Homo sapiens: one gene and its partners. The protein of the gene in region 6 interacts with the protein of the main gene of each other region in a pairwise test. Each region holds a gene or a part of one and is shown on either strand. Other genes may lie near its edges.

Region 1 (3,500 bases), on a different chromosome or scaffold from region 6:
TAAAAATGCAATAGTATAATAAACTCCCATGTATCTAAGACCCAACCCCCAAAATCATCAATCCATTGCCATTTCAGGAGGGTTCATTTTCAAAATGAAAGGTGACTCTTTAAAGCTATCAGCGGAAGAGTCCCATGCCACGGGGCAGGGAAAATGACCATTTACCTGAGATACTAAAACACTAAAAGGATAGGTAACTTGCCCCAAAGCAGACAGTGGGCTGCCTGGCCTTACACTTGAGGCCCCAAAGATGTTGGTCTTTGCTGACAAAACCCTATAATTGGTGTTGGCTCTACCCACTTGTCCACTGACCCCTTCCAGAGCTCCACTCTCCCCAGATCCAAATGGTGGTGCTTAAATTTGGGCAGGAAAAAGCAATTTAATCTATAGACCTAATGGAGCAACACCACCAACCAAGTGGCTGACTGACTTCACAGAAACTTTGAAATCCCAGTACCTAGGAGAATCCAAAACAGCTGAAAGGCAATTGTGGCAGACAGAATAATGGCCCAAAGATATCCACATCCTAATCCCCAGAAATTGTGAATATGTTAGATTATATGTTAAAGGAGAATTAAGATTGCCAATCAGCTGCCCTTAAAACAAGGGGTATTAATCTGGATTATCCAATCCAGGTGGACCCAATCTAATCACAGGATCCTTCTAAGTTGAATAGGGAGGTGGGAGAGAGGGTCAGAGCAAGAGAGGTGAGGATGGAAGCATCAGTGAGGTGTGATGTCACTGGCTCTGAAGATGGAGGAAGGGGGCTGTCAGCCAAGGAATACGAGCAGCCTCTAGAAGCTGGAAAGGATAAGGAAATGGATTCTCCCCTAGAACTTCTGGAAAGGAATGCTGCCCTGCCAACCCCTTGGTTTTAGCCCAGTGAGACTGATGTTGGACTCTAACCTACAGAACTGTAAGATAATACATCTGTGTTGGGAGCCATTAGTTCACATAATTTGTTACAGCAGCAACAGAAAACTAACACAGCGGCCATACACAAAGTATCTCTCAGACCCGAGCCCTAGTAGGATCACTGAGGTCCAAAGACACCTCAGCTGCTCCAGAGATTACCCCAACAGTCAACTTACAACAAAGGTCAGTTTGATAAAACAGCTTTAACATAACTTTGACCTTGGCTCCGGTACTGAACAAGTCTCTTGCGGGCCACATGTTTGCTCGTTCGACACGTTTCACTTTTTAATTAGCCAATTAGCAGGCCTTGGGTGCAGAAGGCCCAGGCCATGTATTATTGATACAGCATTGAGCCAGGCTGCTGCAGAGGCCCGCTCTCAAAACCTGAAAATGAGAACTCCAATTCTGCCGGCCATGCTGACAAAAGTATTTTGCTCAAACCCCATTCTTGTCTCCTGGGTCTGAAACTCATATGACAGACAATCGAGGGATTGATTTCAAAAATGTGTTTGCTCTGTGCCCTTCTCCCGATGTTTACATCTGCAGCATCCAGAAATGTGGCAGCCCACATCACTCTCCCCCTTAAAAGACAAGGAAAGCAGCTGGGTGCGGTGGCTCACGTCTGTAATCCCAGCACTTTGGGAGGCTGAGGCGAGTGGATCACCTGAGGTCAGCAGTTTGAGACCAGCCTGGCCAACATGGTGAAACCCTATCTCTACCAAAAATACAAAAATTAGCTGGGTGTGGTGGCACATGCCTATAATCTCAGCTACTCGGGAGGCTGAGGCAGGAGAATTGCTTGAGTCCGGGAGACGGAGGTTGCAGTGTGCCGAGATCATGCCACTGCACTCCAGCCTGGCCGACAGAGCGAGACTGTCTCAAAAAAAAAAAAAAAAAAAAAGATAAGTGAGGTGTGAATTTGCCCCTGGCTCACACATGTGGTACCCACACCTCCAGAGTGTTTTCCAAATACTGACAACAAACTTGTGTCCATGGAAATAATTCCTTAAGTGTGTGTGGTAAAGTACTATTTCCCTTGGAGTTTAATTTCCTTCCTCTTGCCATAGTTAATCCTACAGTGTCAATTTTAGTTCAAAAGTTACACATATAATCTTGTGTACTGTTGTTGTCTAGTGTCAAAATGCTAACCCATGAGCTCTCTGGGACTGCCCTGAATATTCTGTTAAGTTCTCAACACTGAAGATTTTGAAGACGGACCTCAGCTTGAATCCCTGTTCTGCCTCTTGCTATGTGACCTTGGGCAAGTTACCTTAACCTCTGACAGACTCAGTGTTCTTACCTATAAAATGGGGATAATAATGGTACCTATGTCATACTACTTAGGGCTGTCCTGAGGTTTAAATGAGACAGTGCAAACAAAGTGTTTGGCACAGGACCTGGCACACGGAAATCCCTTAAAGAATGTTAGCTATTTTCATGACTATCACTTAAAACATCAAAATGAAGGTTGAGAGGAAAGCTGTGAGAAGGAGTAATGGGACAGAAAAGGTCAATGTCATTGTCAAGATCCCATGGGTCTGAGACCAGCCATGCATGGTAAAGCCATGGTAAAGAACTCCAGAGAAGGATTCTGAGAGAGATGATAAAAATCCATTTAAAGACATGGGTGCTGGCAGGTATGGTCCCAGGTATGAGGACCAAAGAACTCCCAGAAGACTGTTGGGAAAATTCTAGCACATGCAGTTGGAGAAGCATGTCCTCAGCACCCTCAGGGCACCACATCAATTTCAGCCCAGGATCTGCAGTTAGGAGCCCAGGCTGCCAGGAATGGGAACACTTCATCTCGGGTGCAGGCCTGTGACTATCCCTATTTCATTTTCTTTTTTTTCTGTCCCCATGGTACGAGGTGGCTTTCCAACAGGCTGTTTTCAACTTGATGCAAACTGAAGATGAGACCAAATCAGGCAAATAACTGCCTGGTGGGGTTGTAGATGGAATTCAGAGTAAGATTCTTTTCCTGAGTGAAGGGGCAGGGGAACTTAAAACTCCCTCTGAACTTTCCCCGTCATTGGTTGAACTTTACAATTCTGACATCTCAGGCAACCCGATGTCAGGGAACATCAAGGGCAGGACGGATGTGCAGACCAAGAGAAATAAGAATCACAGCTCAGGAGGCAAAACGAAAGCAACAGCTTTACCTTAACTTCCACTTCTGGGGCTGGGAATTCACCAGCTCGCGGGAAAAGCAACAGAACTGATGTGATGATCACAGCACCGAAGAATAAAAAAATGACAGAGAACCTGGGGTTAAAAAGACAAATTATTAAAAGCACTGTCTATAATTTCTTCTTTGATCAGTTAGGTCTGGACAGTCTCTTCCTTGGAGCCAATATTCTATGTTTCAGTCCCTTAACAATGTCCAGAGGCCTGCTGTCAACAACCTCTTCATCCCAAAGTCCTTCTTCCTAGACAGGTACCAGCTGGGTGCATTCCCATTTATTCTTGGTAATTCCCAATTCCTAAGAATGGAAATGTGTAGTTTTTATTTTTACTTCTGCCCAAAGTCATAATCAAGAAAAACCAAAGCATCCCCTCTCCACCTCCACTTCTGTTGTTTTTAGAAC
Region 2 (3,500 bases), on a different chromosome or scaffold from region 6:
GTGCCTGGGTTTGCTTCATCCACAGCCTGAGTGACTCTTAAGTTTCTAACTTCTTGACCATTAGTGACTACTTGCTATGGGAAAAGCACTTCAGACTTCACAAGATGAAACTATCCTAGGGCTTGTCATTTTGTTCAGTCCTCAACTTTCTACTCCATAGCCTATTTCTATGCAAACATCAGCATGTGGAGCTAGATGCTGGGAATCACAGAAGATTACATCTATTCCCCACTGGAACTCCTGTGAACCACCAGGGCCTCTGTCTCTGGCTCATATGAGTTTTACTGGTCCACTACAGGGAGGCCAAGAGTCAGGGAGGGCTTGTAACAGAAGGGTTGAGATGGGGCAAGAACAGGTGGCCTGTCCTTGACAGTTTGGTAGATATAAGAAGCTAGAGCAGGCCAGGCCCTACTGGCTTGTCCAATTCCTAGTTTTACACTGGGCTAGGAGATCTGCATCCCTTATTGCACACCAACCCCATCTCCACCGTTTGAAACTGCTCTCAGGATCACCCACTCCTGCTCTCCTAAAGTACTTTAAAGGCACCTGGTGGGGTGGAGAGACAGGGGAACTCACCAGAAGGTCCCTGGAGGCCAGGGGGTCCTTGAGGACCAGGAGGACCTGGAGGACCAGGTGGTCCCATAACAGTTGTTCCTGGAATTCCAGGAATCCCTGGAATTCCTGGGGGTCCCTGGGGTCCTGGAGGTCCTGGGGGTCCTGGAGGGCCATTGGGTCCAGGAGGTCCTGCTTTCTTTCCTGAAAAATAGGATTCAGTGTTACTTTTTTTTTTGAGACGGAGTCCTGCTCTGTTGCCCAGGCTGGAGTTCAGTGGCACGATCTCGGCTCACTGCAACCTCCACCTCCCGGGTTCAAGCGATTCTCCTGCCTCAGCCTCTGGAGTAACTGGGATTACAGGCGCGTGCCACCGCGACCTGCTAATTTTTGTATTTTTAGTAGAGACGGGGTTTCACCATGTCGGCCAGGTTGGTCTCAAACTCCTGACTTCGGGTGATCTGCCTGCCTCAGCCTCCCAAAATGCTGGGATTACAGGCGTGAGCCACCGCGCCTGGCCTCAGTGTTACATTTGTAGTTATTTCCTGTGATGAGTGTACTGTCAGGAGTTCTACAGACTTCTGAGGACACAAAGTCAGCTCTCTGGGAGGCCCTGCTAAAGAGTTGGATACCTTTATCACACATCTCTGTCTCCCTGTCTCCGTCTGTCTTATGCTTTCTCTCCCCTCCCCCCACTCCCTTTTGTGAATATGCATTTACAAAGCTAGGTTTGAGCATATAGAAATAAGTGGCCCTCCAGGAGATCAGTCTGTGTCTGTGGGGAAACAGACACAGTCATGGGATAGTAGAAGTGCTACCTTAGTGGGTAGGGACCAAATGCTGAAGAGGTCAGAGAAGGTTTCAAAAAGGAGGTTACATTTCAGCTGAGTCCAAAGGATGAGAATTTCTCTACCAAGTGATTAGACCTATGGGTCACTTTGTGGTTCTTTTTAGAAAGGGCTATTGTTGAAGAATGTGGAGCTTTTATGTTTACTGCCCAGTTTGGTGGACTTGATGTCGATAACAAGAGGAAGCCGTACAGCCTGGCCTTAGGAACAGTATCAGCTCCAGGAAGGTTCCTCCAGGAGTCAGGATGTACAGGAAATGGGGGTTGGGATGGGGACAGTGCTAGTCGGGAATGAGGAATGGGAAGGAGTTTTGGAGATGGGGGAATGGAGAAGGAGGAAGAGGGGCACGGAAAGAGGAGGAGGGAGAGAGAGAGATATTGAGAAACAGGAAAGAAGCAGAGACAGAGAGTAGAGGGAGCTGAGGAGGAGGCAGCAAGTTTCACTCTCTCAGCTGACCTCTGTAAACTCTATTTTAAAAGATCTCTGGGAAAGGAAATTCTGCAAACTCCATAGTAACATGTTCCAATGTTTATTGCCCCTCACTGCTCACTGTTAGGAAGTTCTCTGGTATATTAAATGATGTCCCTCTTGTGGCAGTTTAAGCTCTTATTCTATTTGTGTAGACAGAGAAGAATATACATATACATAATAATCCTTATATATGAAAAGAAATTAAGTTACCCACCAACCCCTATTTCTATAGGCTAAATAATCCAGCTTCCCAAAGTCTTTCCTCAGAAGTCCCATTCTCAAATGTATTATTAATCATGCCCACCAACTCTTCCCCCTTTCCTCCTTGCTATCCTTCTAGAACAATCTCGACCCTCCTATTTCATATTCCAGTCCTTTCAACATTCCCACCAGGATGTAGTTATCTTAAATGAGTCATAACTGTGGTCTTGAACCAAAACCTCCAGCTCTTCCTGTTGACTTCCTCTGCTCTGTGCAGCTCCACTCAAAGACTACATGTAGGCACAGGTCTTCTTCCTTCCTTCACCACCTTCTCACAATTTTATGGAAAGTTTCAGGAATGGAAGCCTGTTTCCAGACTTCATCACAATGTCTTCACCTGAGGTAGTTTCTTAGTTTTAAATACAACCTTCTCTAGTCTCACTAAAAACCTTCTTACTGACTCTGACTTCTTGCTCCCCAGACACTTAGGCAGGAGAATCTTGTCCTGATTTATCAGGTCCTCCCTTAAGAACAATGCCTCATGGCCAAGAAACCCAATCCTCATGGCAATGCCACTCAAGAGGCCATTTGTCTATGTCTAACCACATCTGCATTTGGAATGAAACCATGGGGTCATCGTGGGGTCTCTTCCTCAGAAAGGAAGGAAAGGAAGGTCCAGAGAACATCTCTCCCAGAAGAGTCCCTGTAGCCTTAAAGACCTAGAGGCATGAGCTTTAGAGGTTTCTCTGCACTTAGCAGCAAAAGATTGGATCTGCCCCGTTTCTAGATCTAGCCAATTTCAAGATGCTGAACAGGAAAACCATCTCCTTTCAGATTTGGGCAGCTTCCAAATCAGGCTTATTCAGAGCCCAAGTTTCAATTCCAGCTAGTGTAGTGGAAAGAACACAAAATCTGTACTCAGGAGATAAGGATGTAAGCCCCAGCTCTGCCACAGACACACTTTGGGCAAATCCCTTCCTCTCCTTGAGCCTTAGTTTCTACATCTGTGAAACAAGGAGCTTGGCCTCAATGATTTCTCTGTTTCCTCATGAGACTGAGTTTCTATAAGGAGGGGTGGCTTACCCCTTGCAGTCAGGAAGCTTTCTTAGCCTGGTTGTAAGGTTTGCTTCTCCCTCCTTATTTTCTAGGTGGCACAGACACAGAAGTTGGTGCATATTAGGCTGTCCTGTGTTCCAAGATTTCCAAGCCTAACAGTGATTTTCAAGCTAGAGGGTGTTCTGTGGGTAGCACAAACTTCACCTTCAAGAATGTGAGTCTCCTGTAATTGCTAATGTAATTTTGGAAGAATTAGAGCCAGAAACTCCTCCAGTCCAAGAGACTAATGGTTGCAGTGAAAACAGAGAATGTTCACTTATGAAAATGTTAGAAGGCATTTGAGAAAAAAAAAAACTCCTGCTTTGTTCCAGT
Region 3 (3,500 bases), on a different chromosome or scaffold from region 6:
GCTGGTAGGTGTCTACATCATGAACTGTGAGAGGAGACAGAAATGCATTCTCAGAGATCCTTGCTGACCTTAGAGAACACACAAGCAACTGTGACAAACCTGAAACAGAAAGTCCTTACTAGTTGCTTTAACATGCCTAGTCAGGTATAGAGTGTCTGGCTGGATGATCAAGAGGGAAAAAAAACAATGAGTCAATGCTTCTTTGCTAGAGCTTGCTGAGAATGTTGACGGATGTTTAATCTCTGGGAAGATAGAAAGAAGAGAGTGTTTTGAAAGTGATCTTTAAGTCTTCTTCCTCAGACATGGAATTTCTAAAATGACTGGCCTTTTCCTAGAGTAGGAAGCCAAGTAACAGGGTGAGGAAGCCACAACAGATATGACAAGACTTCCCTGGGTATTGGTCCATGCCTACCTATAGCTCTGAACCTAGGCACACCATTCAAGAAAGTAGGAAAGACTGAAAATGAGGAGGCACTGCAAACAGTAAGTCACCTCAAGTAGTGCATGGCCAGATCCTAAAGCAGAGACCTTTGCACCTAGATGGGGTGGAATGACAATTATTAGAAGGAGAAAAGAGAAAGTGATTTTTCACCAAGTTTGATGAAATGCCTGGGAAATTTCAACAGGAATTTGGGAATATAGAGTACAGCAGAACCACACAGAATATATTTCTTAAGAGTTAAAAAAAAAAAAAAGCAGTTAAGAAAGCTGCCAGACTGTGTTGTTTAAATCTTTATGTGAAAAATCATAAACGTAAGGTAATCTCTAGACAGCACAGATCAAACATGCCCTAAAGACATCAGTGTTGGCTTAACCTTAATAACATATTTTAGTGACGGATTAGTCTGCAGAAAGTTAATATAAGATTTTTAAAAGAAGAAAGAGTTTCTTTAAAAAAATTTACAAGAGAAAATGTTAGAGGGGGAACTTATATATTAAGAGATACTTAAAAGATCTATCAAGTAATTATAATATGTGGATCTTCTTGGGATCTTGATGAAAACAAAAACATGTTAAAAATTTTCATGACACAATTAAAAATCTGAACAATGACTGGCCTTTGGATGATATTAAATAATTATTGTTCATTAATTTTTAGGTGAGGTATTGATATTGTGGTTATATAAAAAGACAGCTCTTTTATTTTTTGATATACATACTAAAACACTTACAGATGAAGTATTATGATGTTTGGAGTTATTTCAAAATAATACGGGAGGGAGAAGTGGATGAAAGTATGGATGAAACAAGACAGTCCACAGGCTGATAAATCTTGGAGCTGGATGATGAGTTCATGGGCTTTATTTTATAATTCTACCTTTGTAATCTTTGAAAGTCAACTATGAAACAGAAAGTTTAATAATTTTTTTCAATTTAAAAAAAGAGAAAAGAAGACATAGAGGTCCTTTCTGAAACAGAGTAACATCACTGTTAAGCCTCAGATTTTAAAAAGTCTCCAAAACTGATTGGCCACTGCTAATCTTGGAAGTGATTCCTTCCAGAGCAAAAAAACATTTGGATCCCTAAATAGAAACATTCAACCACCTGTTTGATAAAACTGTAGGGAAGAAGGCCATTTTCTGACAATGTGTTGATAGGAAACTCTGTTATACCTTTCCAGGTTCCTTACAGCAAAAGCAATAAAGGATGCAGGAGTGGTGTTTCCCTCTTCAATCTCCTACCTTGCCAACCACCCAGCACCTTAGATACTACAGCGTGGGGCTAGAGACTCAATCTGGGGAATTTGCTTTCACCCTGGAGGCATCATGACTGAGGCATGTACCTTCAATTTCCCACAGGAAATGCTGCATATATTCTAAGTATTCATAGACACACTTGGACGTTTCTGGGGAAGGCCTCACACACAGGCCATGAGATTGGTGGAAGTTTGTATCACTTAGAGACCAACTCCAGAGTAATGTTAGCTCGCTTCTGTTAAATGATTTATTCACTTGTCTAAGGGATTCTTGAGCCTAAAGTAGGCCTTGTCAAGGGACAGCAAGAGAGGGTAGCAAAGTCACTGTAGATAAGCTGAAGCTGTTATTGGGTAGATGAGGCCAATTTTATCCCTGGCATCTATTTGTATTATTTTTTGTGCATTGAGGAAAGGGTGATTCTAATAGCTGCCATTTATTGAGTGTATCCTATGTGCCAGGCACTGAGCCATGTATATTACTGACATTACAGATGTAGAATGTATTATCTCAATTTGGTTAAAAACTTTATAAGACAGGTATTATTTGGCAAAGTAGCTTAACCAGTTTACCAAATCTGCACTGTCATTAATTTTCTTTTGTTTTTAGAAACCATGAATGCAATCAACAAAACAAGAAGAAATTCAAGTTATTTCAAACATATGAGGAAATTATAAAAAGCAACAACAAAAGCAGCATTAATAACAATATATGTTGTACACTGTCTTATTCAATACTTTAAAAAAAAATAAAAGGTAAGTGTCAGCAGTTCTCAAAGTGTGATTCAAGGACCCTAGGGGGGTGTCTGAGACTGTTAGAAAGCTTGCTAGGTTTTCCTTTCCTAACTGTCTTTAAAACTGCATTTTCTTCATAAATTTCAACCAAAACAACATATCACAACTGTTTGAATGTGGATACATATATGAGAATCTAGCTTTCTTTCTGTCAAACAAGATATTAAAAGAGATTTTCAAAACTGTGGGCCGGGTGCAGTGGCTCACGCCTGTAATCACAGTACTTTGGAAGGCCGAGGTGGGCAGGTCACCTGAAGTCAGGAGTTCAAGACCAGCCTGGCCAACATGGTGCAACCCAGTCTCTACTAAAAATACAAAAATTAGCCAGGGATGATGGCACATGCTTGTAATCCCAGGTACTCGGGAGGCTGAGGAAGGAGAATCGCTTGAACCCAGGAGGCAGAGGTTGCAGTGAGCCGAGATCCCGCCACTGCACTCCAGCCTGGGTGACAGAACAAAATTCCATCTAAAATAAATAAATAAATAAATAAATACAATAAATTTTCAAAACTGTAAAACAATGCCTGTTTTCTCTCTGATTTGTTTTGGAGATTATAGTTTTCAAAAATATGTTTTTATGTTAACCTTAGATGGGTTTATTATTATTATTGAAAATAAAATTATTCCTAAATATTTTAAATATTTCTCAGTTTTAATTTCTAATACCATAAATATCAATAAATATAAGCCGCATAAGCAAAAACTCTTTTGGAGTCCTCGATTATTTTGAAGAGTATAAAGGGGTCCTGACACCAAAGAGCTTGAGAACTGCTGTTCTATGTTAATGCATTAAGTTATTTAAGTGCTAGAGAGTTAAGTTCAGCAAATGTGTTAAGTTTGTCTTAGCATTTTTATTTCAACCAATAGTAATTCATGCGATATTATCATGTCTGGTAAATATAAATAACAGCAATACTGGCAACAAAACACTTTAAATTCATCATTCATTTTTATAAAAATTCCGCAAGGCACATGTTATTTGATGAAGTTAACTTCAGAAAAATTAAGTAAG
Region 4 (3,500 bases), on a different chromosome or scaffold from region 6:
TAATTTTTGTGTTTTTAGTAGAGACAGGGTTTCACTAGGTTGGCCAGGCTGGTCTTGAACTCCTGACCTCAGGTGATCCACCCACCTTGCCCTCCCAAAGTGCTGGGATTACAGGCATGAGCCACTGCACCCTGCCAGAGTTTTAAAAAGTTGGTTGCAATTTTTTTGTGTGTGTACAACTTATTAATCTCACAAGATTTCAAACACAAAATGGCTCTGATGACTTCTTCACGTGCTTTAGAGCATTTTATGTCCCCAAACATCACTGTGCATTTGTAAACCTCAGTGAGTCAGAGCAGCCGTGGCCTTATTTTTTGTTGTTGCTATTTAGTTGAAGTTAATACTAACCATAAAATGGATTCAGCAAGTCTCTAAAGTTTGCTATAATTATCTTTCATTGAAATTTCCTTTTAAAATTCAAGAAATTCTGTCAGTGTCTGAGTATTTATTTGAGAATGGTCATATTTGATTTGAAATTCCCTTTGAACCAAATTGTTTTGCAGGCATCTACTTTTATGATTCAGACTGTGAATTTAATAAGACTCTAGTTGTTTTTTTTTGTACTTTACAGTGATGTATCGGGTTCATACATGTCAAAGTTCTTTTCACCCAAAAAGCAAGAATTATTTCTCCACATATTTTCAAAAAATAAGCAGTATGATTATTTTGTCTTAAGACTAGCACAAAAATATTGTTCAAATGCATTATACTAGAGATACCATTACTTTAAAAAATCTTTTCTAACATATGAAGATAGATGGAATGGTAGGAAAGAGAAGGGGGTACATACGTTCTCTGATTAAATGTTGAACTATTTTCATTTCCTCTTTCCTGTGGTTAGGATAGGTAAAGGCATTTGAATGTTAGGTAGCTGCAAGTCAGAGAAATAGGAAAGGGTACAGAGAGATGGAAGCCAAGATGAAAATGAAATGAAATTGAAGAATATTTTGCATTATCTAGTCTTATCACTGCCATTCTATGACACAGGAAATACCATTTGGGAAACTGAATTTCTATTTGAAAAAGGAGTCTGGGATTATATAAAATTCATTTAGGTATTCAGTGGTGTTTTCTCTTTTTCTCAAGTTTGCTCCTGCTTCTCACTCCAGCTTTTTTTACAAAGGACTTAAGCTGTAAGGTGGAGAGTGCAAAGTAGGACAAGGAGGCTGTATTTTGAGTAAAATATGTATAAATGTCTTAAAATTCAGCTTCCAGTTTGAAACATACAGGTAAACACACATAATTCTTTCTAGTGATCAGGAAAGAGTCTCTAAACATGAGTTGAGAGTGGTCTGAGCCATCTAGTATAAAAAGAAATGGAGGAGAAAAAATCACTGGAAATGCCCATTTGAGAGACAACAGTTTAGTTAAAAGTGAGAAATTGTTGTACTGAATTGTTACTTTTTCTGAAAACGTGTATACTTACAGGTGCTACATCTTATAATGTAAAAAAATTTTCTTAATTACTTATATTCACTTTCTTACCTATCACATTGAAAGTCTTATTGTGTTGAAATACTACTAATTTTTAAATGTTTCTCTAAAATTTAGCTGAGTTATATAATTTCTGTTGGCAATATTTACACTACTTGTGATTAGTAACTTAAAATTGCTATTCTAAAATAGTCATTAATCATTTCCTTAGAGTGCTATCCCTTTATATGCACAAACATTTCTTTTCCACCCTCTTTGAAAAAAAATTGAAATATTTTATCTTGGGTAATATCTTGGAATTTCTTTTTAGATACTAAGGAATCTAAATTTTCCTTTGCTAGGAATCTGATTTTAAATAATAAAATATAAAATTTTTATTAACAGAAGTTTCTGAAACTATAGTATAGACTTTTAATACAGAATAGTGTATGAGTGAGGGCAGGGTATTTGTTTTTCCTCCTCATTACAGAGGGAGATATTTGATTGGACCAAGTAATATTTAACTTTTCTGTACTGAATCATACACCATTTCCATCAGCTGAGGGCTTAGAATGCTTTCCATTTACCACATAACATCTCAAAAGAGAAGTGAATCTGAGGCCTGAGTGTCAGAAATAAAAAGTTAGGTTTTTCAAAAGGGAGCTTTCTGACTATGGTTACCAAACAGTAAAACAAGTTTGTAAGAGAGATTATATATTTTTAAATTTTATATAATTTTTGAATAGCAATAGAGAGTGGGCTGTATGACCATTTAAATGGAGTATTTTATTTTATATCAAGGAATTTAATTTTTTTTTTTTTTTGAGACAGAGTGTCGCTCTGTTGCCCAGGCTGGAGTACAGTGGTGCAATCTCCACTCACTGAAACCTTTGCCTCCCAGGTTCAAGTGATTCTTGTGCCTCAGCCTCCCGAGTAGCTGGGATTACAGGTGTGTACCACCATACCCAGCTAATTTTTGTATTTTTGGTAGAGATGGAATTTCACCATGTTGACCAGGCTGGTCTCAAACTCCTGACCTCAGGTGACCCGCCCACCTTGGCCTCCCAAAGTGCTGGGATTACAGGTGTGAGCCACCATGCCCGGCCAAGGAATTTACATTTTTATCCTGTGCTCAAGGTGTGCTTGGCATGAAAATTATAGACTTGTAAACCAGATAAATTGGATTAATTATTCACATTTCAAAATGATTCTTAGGTATTATAAATGATACTTGGTCAATGCCTTTAAATTGGTGAGAATCTTTGCTTATTTAAAATATGGCTTGATTTAGCATGATACATCTATTTTGTAACACACTATTAGGTCAAGTATATTGGTTTCTAAAGTTACAATGAAATTTTCTGATACCAAACCTAATATTAGTTGATATATTTTACTTTTAAAGATTTGGGATCATATTGTAGAGAAAAATTTATTGCACACCAGTAATTTTTAGAGAGAAAACTTTGCTGTACCTCTCATTTTTTATCCTAATGAAGTTTCATTACTTGTGAACTTCTCAATAAAGATGTGAGAAATCTGAAATTGTTGGGTAAAAAAACTTTATTGTATGGATGAATACACAGTATCCTAAGTATAGTTCTCTAAGTAACATAGAGCTTGGGAATTAGTCACATCATTAAATTTATTAACAAGATATATTCATAGAAACTTATGGTTTTTATGTTAAACTTATTCCTTCTATACAAGAAAACTTGACCTGGATCTTGAGAACATTGTGCTTTCACTTGGGTATTTCTTTTAAAAACAAATTTTCCGTATACATTTATGGTCCTCAATTTTTCTATTTAGAAATGTTTTCATAATAATGATAAAGAGGGACTAATAATAGCTACCCTTGTTTTCTTACAAATTTGTTACAAGAATCAAGTGCAATAGTGCATGTCAACGTACTTTAAAAACTGAAGCCTCCCAAGATAATAAATCTTCATATCATGATCCATTCGAATTGTTTTAAGGATATGGAGTTTGTTAAAGCCAGTAGATCTGGAAGTCATTCCCAGCTGATTGGAGCAGGAAACTTATCCTGCATTGATGCTGTTGGGGCTGGAGCTTGGAGCCAAGGG
Region 5 (3,500 bases), on a different chromosome or scaffold from region 6:
CCCCCACCTCCCTGCACCTGCTGCCCACCTGCTGGGTGAGAGATACCGCTGTCTTCACAGGTGTTCTCTGAGCTGCTTGACTGAGAAGCAATCAGGAGAGAATTGCATTTGGGTAGAAAAATCAGTGCAATGAAGACTTTGGATTTATTAAAACCAAGTTGTCCCTAAGGAATCAGATGTGGGCATCTCTGACCAGAAAGCGTCCTCTGCTGATGGATCTTAGGTTGCCTGAAGGCACGTGGCAGGGCCGGTGGGATGCACTGTGCATCTTACAAAAATGGGAGCAAAATCAATTAAATAAAAATGCCCAGACCACCATGGAATAAGATGTGTGTGTAGATTTCATCCACAGTTGAGTTTAAGATTCAACAGATTATGTGGCCTTTTCCATAACGGGCACTGACGGAGGGACAGGAGCACATTGGTACAGGCAGGGCTTGGATTCAGGAGGCATGCGAGGGTGGCATGGAGAAATAGGAGGAGGATCCAGCGGGCACATCCAGTGGGAAGAGGGAGGCCCTGGCCTGGGAACCCCTCTCCTAAGTGCCTTTTGCCTGGTGGCTACGTGACCCTCCCAGGAGGACCAATTTAAGTTGCTTCCTCGTTCACACAGTCTCAGGGAGTCCTGCACGTCTTCTCTGTAGCACTCAGCACAAACACAGGTATATTGGGTTAGGGATAACATGGCGCTTTCCCTGACCAGGTGATGGTGGGCTTGAGGTCTGCCTTGCTCACAGCTGCCTCACTGGTGGGGACCAGGAGAAGACCCATCCAGCCATGCATCGGTGTCCAAGTCAGCTAACGGGCCTTGGTCTCCTGGTACCTGGGTGTGGCTGAACTAGAGCCACTTATGAACCAAACCCCAAAGGAGCAGCTTGGGTTGCACATGGTTGGGAAGAGACTCCGTTATGGAATCCCAGTGGGACCCCGTGGGCCAGAGGCGCTTACGGGTGACCTATACACATGCTATCGAGGAACACTGAATTTCACAGTGAGGAAACGATTTTCCTCCTCCTTTACTCTCTTTGGTTTTTCTGATGAAGGCAAGAAGGGCTCAGGGTGGAGCCAGGTGTCTGGAGTTCTCTAATAGCGTGGATAGGCAAAGGTAAACCGGATAGTGACATTGTTTCTATGCTTATGGTTGCAATGTCATTATTTTGGGAAAAATTAACTGTAAAATACATATGAGGTAAATTAATGCACAGATGGCAGCTGGAAATGGCAAATCTGAGAAGGTAGTCCTCAGCTCCTGTCTGCAGAGTCATCTCACTCCACTCCATTCTTCCCACGTGGCTTAAGATGTGACTGGTGTGAGGAATCAATGGCAGGAAAAGTGAGGGGAAGTCAGTGTGTGGAGAGCTGGTCACAGCCTCCTGTGTGCACCTTGCTGGCTGCAGCCACAGCCTGGGCTCTGAGCTTCCGGCAGCTGCGCGGAGGGCCTTGAGGTCAGGCCAGACTCTGCCCTGTTCCAGTGTGTGCTTTTACCAACCTGATGAAGACTATTTTCCAGCTCCCTGGGAAATTCCATGCTCCCCACACTGGCTCGCAGGTTCCTGCAGTCTATAGTGGGAACCTTGTCCACAGTTGTCCATAGAACAAAGCCCACTATGGGTTTAACCCCAGCTCCTGACAGATCTCAGGACCCCACCCAGCCTCTGGGGGCATCACCTTGCAAGTGAGTCCTTTAAAAAATGAGGCCGACTTTTTTCCTTTGCATGGTATATTTATAGCAGTATGTTTCATAGTGAGATGGTGGGGAGACATTATCTTTTTCTTTTCTTAAACAGCTTTATGAGCTATAATTCACAGCCCATGCAGTTCCCCCATTGAAAGGGTATGATTCCCTGGTTTTCAGAATATTCGCAGATACGTGCGTCCATCACCACAGTCAATCTTGGAACATTGTCATCACCTTGGAAAGAAATCCCATGAGCTGTGGCTTCCCTGCCCCCATTCCAAGCAACCACTAATCTACTTTCTATCTCTACAAACTTCCATATTTTGAACTTTCATATGAATGGAATCATTCAACATATGGACTTTTGTGGCTCACTTCTTTCATTTAGTATAATGTCTTCAGGTGAGAAATTCTCTCTCAAGGGGACTTACACAGAATATCTCTACCGTTGCAGCTGCACAGTGCCCCTTTTGGACCCCACCATTCAGGGGGCCCTGGGTGAGTGTGTCTCATGTCCCTGGAGCCTCCAACCCAGAAGCCTCTGAGGAACCACGTTCCTAGGGACGCTCTTACACCAGTCCTTGCCTGTCCCAGAAACATATGAAGGTGAAGGTAGTCACAGATGTCTCAGCACAGATGACATCATGAAAGCCAGGGGTTTGCTCCCAGGGGATGGGCAGTGGGGCGGTCGACCTTCCGCTCAGCACTGCCCAGGAGATGCCCAGGGAGGACTGCAGAGCCCAGGGTCACAGGGGCCATCTGGGGGACAGGGCGGAGGAGGGTGAAGAGCAATCCTGAGAAGAAGAGGAGGATACGGGAAAGGCACAGCCGAGTCAGGAGAGATTTCATTCCCGGCTAGGTGTCTGTGGAACAGAAACAGCTGTTGCCTCAGCTGAGTCATGCCCCTTGCCTTTGGAGCACAGGCCTTTGCCGCGGTCTTCTCTGGGAGAATTCTAATGCAGAGGCGCCCTGCCAGCTCCCTCCCCTTGGCAGGGGACTCCCGTTCTCAGAGGAGCTGTCCTCCGAAGTCACTGTGGGACGCTGCAGCAAGTGATTCTGCCTCTTGGCCCCAGCTTCCTCTCTGCAAATGGCAACTCACAGCAGTCTCCCCACACTGGGGGCTGGTGTGAACTGGCTAAAACTACAGATGTGAGTATGAAGCTTCTGGCACTGAGCCCAGCACTACCAATACCTGGGAATAAGTTGTCGTTCATGCAGGAGGCTGACAGCTCAGTGGAAACAGATGCATAAGCAGCCACTTAACATGCAGGTGGACAACCAGCCCCGAGTGGGCAGAGCAGCCTGGACAGGTGCATAGGGTCAGTCGAGCCTTGGAGAGAGAGGTGGACCTAACTGGTTAACCAGGCCAAAGGACTGGGAGGGGCTCTCCAGAGGGCAGAAAGGGCACATGCCAAGCTCAGAGGATGCTGAAGCAGCTGTGAGGGCTTTGGAGGCTGAAGGCTGGGCAGCCGGGCTTGGGTCAAGGAGTAGCAGAAGGTGGGGCTCCAGGGAGGGTGAGCCTCCAGCCCCGCTGTGTGCAAAGCTGAGATTTGTTGTAAACCATGAGTCAAATCTGGTTCCTGCCCTGCTCCACCTACTAAATGTACAGAGAGCAAACAGAGTAAGAAGGGCACCCACACCAGGGAGTTAAGGCACTCCTGGGCACAGAGCAATCTGTTCCAGCCTGGCCTCAGGACCCCGCTGGCCAAATATTTGTCCAGAGCAAGGGAGTATGTGAGGGTTCAAGCATTTCCTTTCATCAAGGAGACTCCAGGTGGCTCCCAGCCTCCAGGTGGCAGTGCAAAGAGGCAATTATTTTGAA
Region 6 (3,358 bases):
TGTGAAATTTCTTTGAAATAGCCAGCTCCTCTAATGTGTCTTCAAAATATAAAGTGATTCACAAAGGCATGCATCACACCTATTTGTAGCAGCCCATTCATTACATAAACCAGGGCATACCTGTGTGGGCTCTGTGAGTGAAGGGAGGCTTCACTACTTTCTGTGAGCAGTAAGGACTGGTATCTTTCTGTGAGCAATAAGGACTGGATAAAGACTGCATATCCTTGTGTCGTGTCAGCACCAATACAATAAGGAGGGTTTTAATGTGAAGCAGGCAATCTTCCAGCCCCTTCTGGTCTTGGATGAAATAGTTGCACAGAGTATTGCACCAAAAATACACAATGGAGGCTGAAAAGTTCAACATATTTTAAGTCAATTAATCAAATTGCATTGATTCTTGATGCTTTCTTAGAGGCCTACATGATTTCTTAGATTGCTCTGATAAACTATCATAAGGGGTCCACCTCCCCTCATTTAGCTCCCCCAGGGATTTCTTTTCCCCCATGTCATACACCCAGTCCTAAATCAACCCCCAAGGCTATCCTTCCATCCCTTCTGCAGAGGGAACTTTTGTCAGACTCTGCAACAAACTCCTAGCTCTATCCAGAGTGTCCTCTGCTGCTAAGATTGGTATCTTTCTCCTCAAAAGCCTGGATGGTGAATGGGGGTGCATTAGTCAGAATTCTCCAGAGAAACAGAAAAAATAAGATTCGCGTGTGTGTGCAAACATATATATAAATAAATAAAAATATATTTATTTTAAGGAATTGACTCACATGATTTTGAAGGCAGGCAAGCCCAAAGTCTGCAAGGGGTGGGCCAGCAGAGAGCTGGTGCTACAGTGCGGGTCTGAAAGTTGCCAGAGTCCCTTTTATAGAGAAGCTTAAAAAATATTTGTTGAATTAAATGTCTTAGGTAGAGACAAATTGAATTAAAGTGGTTAAGTAAATACTCTTAGGTGAAATTTGTGCAAATTATGAGTATAAAGAGGGTGAGCTACAGAACTCTCCATGACCACTCAAGAATGGGACCCAAAGGCAAATGATAACTTATTCATTCATCAAGGGATAAACTTGAGTTATCAAATGGTTAATAGATAAAGATCCCACTCTGCCTTGGATTTAGCCATCGCAGTCCCTGTGTAAAACCCCACCGGCTTTCAGGCATGGAAAAAAATTTCACAAAGGCCTTGAAAGAAGGCATATGAAGACCAAAAGGATATTGAGCAGGGTTCCATACTTGAATAAAGGAAGAAACTCCCTTCAATGTTTACTAAGAAATAGTTAGAATATAGCATATCCTGTATAGATGAAATGTCCTAGCGAAAATGTTTAAATGTATTTAAAGAAGAGCTAGATTTTGTGGGGGGAGAGAAGGGAATAGGATAGGCTGGTGGGAGGAAGAATGAAAAGAAGAAAACTTGTTGGAAATTTTGGAGTAGATTGTGAGGAGGGGTGACTCACTTTAAAGATGTATCATTTGGAGGTAGACACGATTTTCAGAGCACAAAACAGATAAGGAAAGATGTATGCTGATTGTGTGGAGCCCAAGGGAAGGCGGGGTTTTGGAGTCTTACGTGGCTTTGTTTCTGAAAGGGAGACATGTGAAGCCTACTCCTGAGGCGGGAGGCTGGGGACATGACCATCAAGACCTATAATTGATAAACAACTAGGGGCTGGGTGCTGCACCTACATGCTGGGGAAATAGAAAATGAAGCAGACATGTGTCCCATCTTCTTCCAGCTTTCAGTCTAGCTTGGAAATAAATCTCATACCTAGAGAAAATGGAGGATCTGTGGGATGTAGATGAGGTGGGAGCATGAATGCCTAGGGAGGGAAGAAGAAAGATTTTCAGTTCTTCAGCTTTTCCTCATGACCCTATCTCATGCCATGAGCAATTGTCTGGCATCTCCTGTGGGTTGGACCACTGCTGCATTTCTTACTTGCCAACATCACTTTGTCCCAAATGCCATTCCTTTGTTCCAGGGCCTCCTTGTCTTCCATCTGGGGAACTGGAGGTGAGAAGCATTATAATAGCCTCTCTGCCTTTATCTACAATCTCTCCAACCTGTGCTTTATGCTGATGTCAGGATGGGCGTTGATGGATGCTTCTATCACTGTCGGGGCAGGGAGGGCCAGAACACTAGCATAAGATGTCAATATGTCTATCCATATGTCAGGTCCATACTCAACTCAAGCTTCTGGTTAACTGCTGATCTATTGGCAACTCCAGTTCCCAATAAGTTCCTCATCTCCTTCTGAGACCACCTCAGTGTGGACTTAATCGTCCACATCACTGTCAGCATTTTGGTTAAAACCATTCAACAAGTCTCCAGGAAGCTCCAAACTTTCCTTCATCTTCCTGTCTTCTTCTGAGCCCTCCAAACTCTTCCAACCTCTACCCGTTACCCAGTTCCAAAGGTGCTTCCACACTTTCAAGTATCTTTATAGCAATGCCCCACTCCTGGTACCAAATTCCTGTATTAGTCTGTTTTCACACTGCTATGAAGACATACTTGAGACTCGGTAATTTATATAGAAAAGAGGTTTAATTGACAAAAAAGCTAACAAAGTGAGCCCTGATTCAAAAATGACTGTCTACACTTGGCACATGAGGGACTTTATGATATTAAGAGATTAATTAAACAACAGTGGATGGGGAGGAAGAACAGACTTTTGAGCTCTTCCCAATATAGGAATGTGTTAGTTCTAAAAATTTTCTTAAGTTGTTTGCTTGGAACTCAGAGTATATTTTTCCATACGAAAAATTCAGAACTATTTTATTTATGATATGGGCTAAAAAGACTTCTGTAATCTAGCTTGGAAACTTAATAATCATTAAACTTATTTTCAATGAGATACGACTGTTTAAATTCTGAAACCTGGAACCCTCTGTTGCCCTGCAAATGCTTTAGGAAAAGAAGAGTGTGTCTGATGGAGGATAAGATGGAAAGTGAATATGGATCCATATTCAGAAGACACGGTTGCATTACAGCAAAGGAACAGCTTTTTGCTGGCCATGCTAAGCATTTGACATTGATGTGGGAGAACATGGCATTCAGTATGACTCTGTCTGGATATATATAGTTTTGTAAATTGGGTGTTCTTAAGTTGAGACTGCATGTTTCATTCCAAAATCAATCTTAGTTTTCCCACTTGCATTAGCATATTGTATTAGTCCGTCTTCACACTGCTATAAAGACATACCCGAGACTGGGTAATTTATAAAGAAAAGAGGTTTAATTGACTCACAGTTCTGCATGGCTGGGGAGGCTTCAGGAAACTTATAATCATGGCAAAAGGGGAAGAGGTACGTCTTACATGGTGACAGGGGAGAGAGAGCATGCAAGAGAAGGGAA
Region 7 (4,160 bases), on a different chromosome or scaffold from region 6:
AGGCGACGCCGGGGACAGTTGTGTCATCTGGGGAGTGGGGAGCGTCGGGCCTGGGAGGGATTGGGGTGTGTTAGGATCGTAGAGCTGGGGGTCGGGCCCACGTTGGGGTGGAGTCTCCTCCAAGCACAGGGCTGAGGCGGGTCAGTCCGGGAGGGAACTGGAGGAGGGGGGCTTACCTGGAACTGCACATAGTCCCAGCTCTCCTCGGCCGCGGTCTCCTCGGGGTTGGTGCCGTACTTTTGGATGGTTTTCTCTACGACGTCCCGCAAGCTTCGCTCCAGCTGAGAGGCCACCAGTGAGGCTGGGCCTTATCTTCCCCGCCCCACCCCTCCCCCTCTCAGGCTGTGCCAGCCTCAGGCGGGCCCTGTGCATCTCTGGGCCAGTCTCAAATCCTTACTGAATGGCTAGCTCTGTGTACTTCAGGTCTGTCTTTCTGTTTCTTCCACTATTTCTACGGCTCATAAGTCTCTGTCTCTTCTTTCAGGGCGTCTATTTCTTTCTCTTGTTCTCTCTTTTTCCCGTGTGTTTCCCTTTGGAGCTGTTTATGCCTGTCTCCCTTGGTCCAGGTCGGTGTGTCTTTCTATTAATTTATTTTTTGAGACAGGGTCTCACTCTGTCACCCAGGCTGAGTGCATGGCTCACTGTAGCCTCAAACTCCCTGGCTCAAGTGATCCTCCCACCTCGACCTCCCAAGTAGCTGGGACCCCAGGTGCACACCATCACACCCGGATTTTTTTTTTAAATATAGATGGGGTCTCACTATGTTGCCCAGGCTGGTCTCAAACTCCTGGACTCCCACCTCAGCCTCCCAAAGTGCTGGGATTATGGGATTACAGGCGTGAGCCACCAGGCCCAGCCTCTTATTTCTCTTTATCTAGGTTAGCCCCTGTCTGCCCTTGTTTCGGTCTCTCTCCACCCTCTCCCACCACTCCCTTCCCTCTCCTCCCTGCTGGGGGTGGGTGGTGGCCACTGCAGGAAGCTCACCTGGGCCCGCTGAGTGGAGATGAGGATTCCCAGGGTGATCTGTGTGGCAAACAGGAGCAGCAGCATCCCAAAATACTGGGGAGCAGAGTGGAGAGATCAGGCTGACCACCCCTGCAACCCCGGCCCAGGCCATTTTTGAGGGTGGGGATAGGAGTGTTCCTAGGGACGGAGAGGGATGGTGCACTCACCAGGCCCAGGAGGCAGCGGAGCTCCTTGAGGGCCCCCACACAACCCAGGAGGGCGATGCCCATGGTGAAGATTCCTGAGATGGCCAGGACTTTGGACCAGATCTGCAGAGGCACGAAGGCCAAGCCTGGGAGAGGTGAGGGGAGTGATGATGAGCTGTGTGGCACAGCTCCAGGCAGCCCCATTTCCCACCTAGGCAGCCACCCAAGTGGGGAGCAGTATCTTGGTGCCCCTCTCTCTGGGACTCTGTCCCTGCCCCACCCTGAGTCCCTGTTTCCTTCTGAAACTTTCTCTTCTTTCTGGGCCTGTTTCCCGTCCCTGGATCTCTGTCTCTCTTCCTCTTACCCTCTCCTTCCTCCTTCAGCTCCTCCTCGTCCCCAGTAGTTTCAGCCCTATCACTTGTTCTGTGACATTGGCTTGGCTCCTTAAACCTCCCTGAGGCATAGGAGATGATATCTATTTCTTAGGGTTTTTTTTTGAGTTGGAGCCTCGCTCTGTCCCCCAGGCTGGAGTGCAGTGATGTGATCTCGGCTCACTGCAACCTCTGCCTCCCAGGTTCAAGTGATTCTCCTGCCTCAGCCTCCCTAGTAGCTGCGACTACAGGCATGTGCCACCATGCCTGGCTAACGTTTTGTATTTTTGAGTAGAGACAGGGTTTCACCATGTTGGCCAGGCTATTCTCGAACTCCTGACCTCAAGTGATCCACCTGCCTCGGCTTCCCAAAGTGCTGGAATTACAGGTGTGAGCCACCGCGCCCGGCCCCTAGGGTCATTTTGAGAGACACATGAGGACATGTGTTCAACCCAGTCCTCAACACAGGGCAAAGACTTCTTAAATATGAGCGTTTAGGGTTATATTTCATTATTATTTAGGGTCATACTTCATTATTATTTTCCTATTATTAATGTTATTTTGGCTCTTTTACGTCCTTGCTGTATGACATCCATCAAGGGGCTTCCCCTCTCTGAACCTCAAGCGAGGGGAAGGTTTGTGGGGGCATCTGACCAGCCACAAGTCCCGACAGATAGGAAGTGCTTGAGAAATGGCTCTCATGATCATTGTTGTTTGTATGCACAACCCCATTTGCCGGAAGAAGACTCAGGCTCCAAGAAGCCTCCGGTGAGCAGTGGATGGGAGCCTGTAGCCTGCCTGCAGAGTAGGGCACCGTAGGTCTCCCTGAGACAAGGGAGACCCCAGGAAGTTGCTTGGGTTGGGGGAGGCCCTCCCACCTGCCCCAGCCCCCCTCACCCACAAAGGACACGAAGCTGGTCTTGTCAATGAGGATCCAGATGCCGAAGCAGAAGATCAGGCTGCCGAGGACCTGGGGAGAGGAGATGCGGATACGGGGGTGGGCCACAGGGGAAGATGAGGGCTGGGTTAGCGGCAGGGGCTGGGCCCCGGCTGGGTAGCCATGAGGCAACTCACGAAGAAGAAGAGGTTGAAAACGAAGAGGAAGTACTTGATGAGGCTGAGGCAGCTCTCCTGGGCTGACATCTTCACCTAGTGGGGTAAGCGGTCCACTCACCACACAGAAGAGGTGCTGACAGTGGGGGAGACAGGGAGAAAGAAAGAGGCTGAGAGAGAAAGAGAGACGGAGAGCTGAGAGAGAAAGGAAGAACCCCAAAAGAGGAAGTTCCAGGGGTGGGGCTCCACCCACTCCCGCTTCATGTAAGGTGGCTTTCTGTCTCTCTCTCTGTCCCTGTCTCCCTCACCTGCTCCACTGGGACACATGCTCTGGTACCTGAGGGGCCTTGGAATTTGTGGGCACCAAGGACTCATGGGGCAGTCCCTCCCAGGTCTCCATGTCTCAGGCGCTGGGGGATCTAAAGGGACCCCTGATCTACTGGAACCCACCTCTGGGCATGGGGACCTCAGGGCTGACCCTGGACAGCAGCTGACCTCACAGACACTCTGACCTCATGGCCTGCTAAGCTCTCCCATCTCTGCATCCAGCTGTGTCTCCCATTTCCTGCCCTGGGTCTCTTGTTCCTCCTCTCTGGGTCTTTGTCCCCACCTTCCTGCTACTCCCCATCTCTGTCCCCTTATCTCAGCAGAGTCTCTCCCTCCTCTGGGTCTCTGTCCTCCTGCCTCCTGGGGTCTCTATCCTCCCTCTCTCTGTGTTTCTTTATTTTATTTATATATTTGTTTCTTTTTGAGACAGGGTCTCACTTTTCACCCAGGCTGGAGTACGGTGGGGAAAACAGCTCACTGTAGCCTGGGCTCAAGCTATCCTCCCACCTCTGCCTTCTGAGTAGCTGGGATTACAGGTGCACACTACCATGCCTGGCTAATTTTTGTATTTTTTGTAGAAATGGGGTCTTGCTATGGAGTGGGAGTGTTGTATTTTTTATATTTAATTAAAAAAAAACAGAGATAGGGTCTCACTAGGTTGCCCAGGCTGGTCTGGAACTCCTGGACTCAAGCGACCCTCCTGCCTTGGCCTCCCAAAGTGTTGGGATTACAGGCGTGAGCCACTGTGCCTGGCCTCTCTCTGCTTCTGGCCCCTTCTTTGGGTCCTTCCTCCTTTCTCTCTTCATCTCTCTTTTGTTTTTGTTTTTGAGACAGGGTCGCCCAGGCTGGAATGCAGTAGTGCGATCATAGCTCACTGCAGCCCCAACCTTCCCAGGCTCGAGCAATCCTTGCACCTCAGCCTCCCAAGTAGCTGGGACTACAGGTGCACACCACCATGCCTGGCTAATTTTCTTCATTTTTTGTAGAGATGGGAGTCTCACTGTGTTGCCTAGGCTGGTCTCAAATTTCTGGGCTCAAGTGATCCTCCTGCCTTGGCCTCCTAAAGTGCTGGGATTATGGGCGTGAGCCACTGTGCCCAGCCTGTCTTCTTTTCTCTGTCTCCCCCTTCCCCACTTGTTTTTGTGCCTCTCAGAGTCTGCAGCCTGTTCTGGACCAGGGAGCACCCAGGTGCTGGGGGCAGGGGCTGGGTACCTGGGGAAGTGAAAGTGCTACAGGCTCGAGGTGGGAAGGTCCCTGG

What was found.
Region 1: the proteins of EMP1 (region 6) and TMEM218 interact in binary tests that used the Homo sapiens proteins (3 or more experiments, as listed by UniProt).
Region 2: the proteins of EMP1 (region 6) and EDA interact in binary tests that used the Homo sapiens proteins (3 or more experiments, as listed by UniProt).
Region 3: the proteins of EMP1 (region 6) and HTR2C interact in binary tests that used the Homo sapiens proteins (3 or more experiments, as listed by UniProt).
Region 4: the proteins of EMP1 (region 6) and TLCD4 interact in binary tests that used the Homo sapiens proteins (3 or more experiments, as listed by UniProt).
Region 5: the proteins of EMP1 (region 6) and MAL interact in binary tests that used the Homo sapiens proteins (3 or more experiments, as listed by UniProt).
Region 7: the proteins of EMP1 (region 6) and CD37 interact in binary tests that used the Homo sapiens proteins (3 or more experiments, as listed by UniProt).

The regions. Positions count from the first base shown.
Region 1 is NC_000011.10:125,098,127-125,101,626, forward strand, and holds part of TMEM218 (transmembrane protein 218), read right to left. Parts: intron 3,396-3,500; coding exon of another isoform or gene 3,318-3,395; intron 3,178-3,317; coding exon 3,075-3,177; intron 1-3,074. UniProt on the Homo sapiens protein: May be involved in ciliary biogenesis or function.
Region 2 is NC_000023.11:70,025,113-70,028,612, reverse strand, and holds part of EDA (ectodysplasin-A), read right to left. Parts: intron 757-3,500; coding exon 577-756; intron 1-576. UniProt on the Homo sapiens protein: Cytokine which is involved in epithelial-mesenchymal signaling during morphogenesis of ectodermal organs. Functions as a ligand activating the DEATH-domain containing receptors EDAR and EDA2R. May also play a role in cell adhesion.
Region 3 is NC_000023.11:114,902,086-114,905,585, reverse strand, and holds part of HTR2C (5-hydroxytryptamine receptor 2C isoform a precursor), read right to left. Parts: intron 1-3,500. UniProt on the Homo sapiens protein: G-protein coupled receptor for 5-hydroxytryptamine (serotonin).
Region 4 is NC_000001.11:95,144,855-95,148,354, forward strand, and holds part of TLCD4 (TLC domain-containing protein 4), read left to right. Parts: intron 1-3,500.
Region 5 is NC_000002.12:95,042,708-95,046,207, reverse strand, and holds part of MAL (myelin and lymphocyte protein), read right to left. Parts: intron 324-3,500; exon of another isoform or gene 61-323; intron 1-60. UniProt on the Homo sapiens protein: May be involved in vesicular trafficking from the Golgi apparatus to the cell membrane. Plays a role in the maintenance of the myelin sheath, and in axon-glia and glia-glia interactions.
Region 6 is NC_000012.12:13,217,084-13,220,441, forward strand, and holds the end of EMP1 (epithelial membrane protein 1), read left to right. Parts: 3' UTR 1-2,858; downstream 2,859-3,358.
Region 7 is NC_000019.10:49,334,046-49,338,205, reverse strand, and holds the start of CD37 (leukocyte antigen CD37), read right to left. Parts: upstream 2,801-4,160; 5' UTR 2,666-2,800; coding exon 2,597-2,665; intron 2,493-2,596; coding exon 2,420-2,492; intron 1,298-2,419; coding exon 1,173-1,297; intron 1,060-1,172; coding exon 985-1,059; intron 282-984; coding exon 177-281; intron 1-176. UniProt on the Homo sapiens protein: Structural component of specialized membrane microdomains known as tetraspanin-enriched microdomains (TERMs), which act as platforms for receptor clustering and signaling.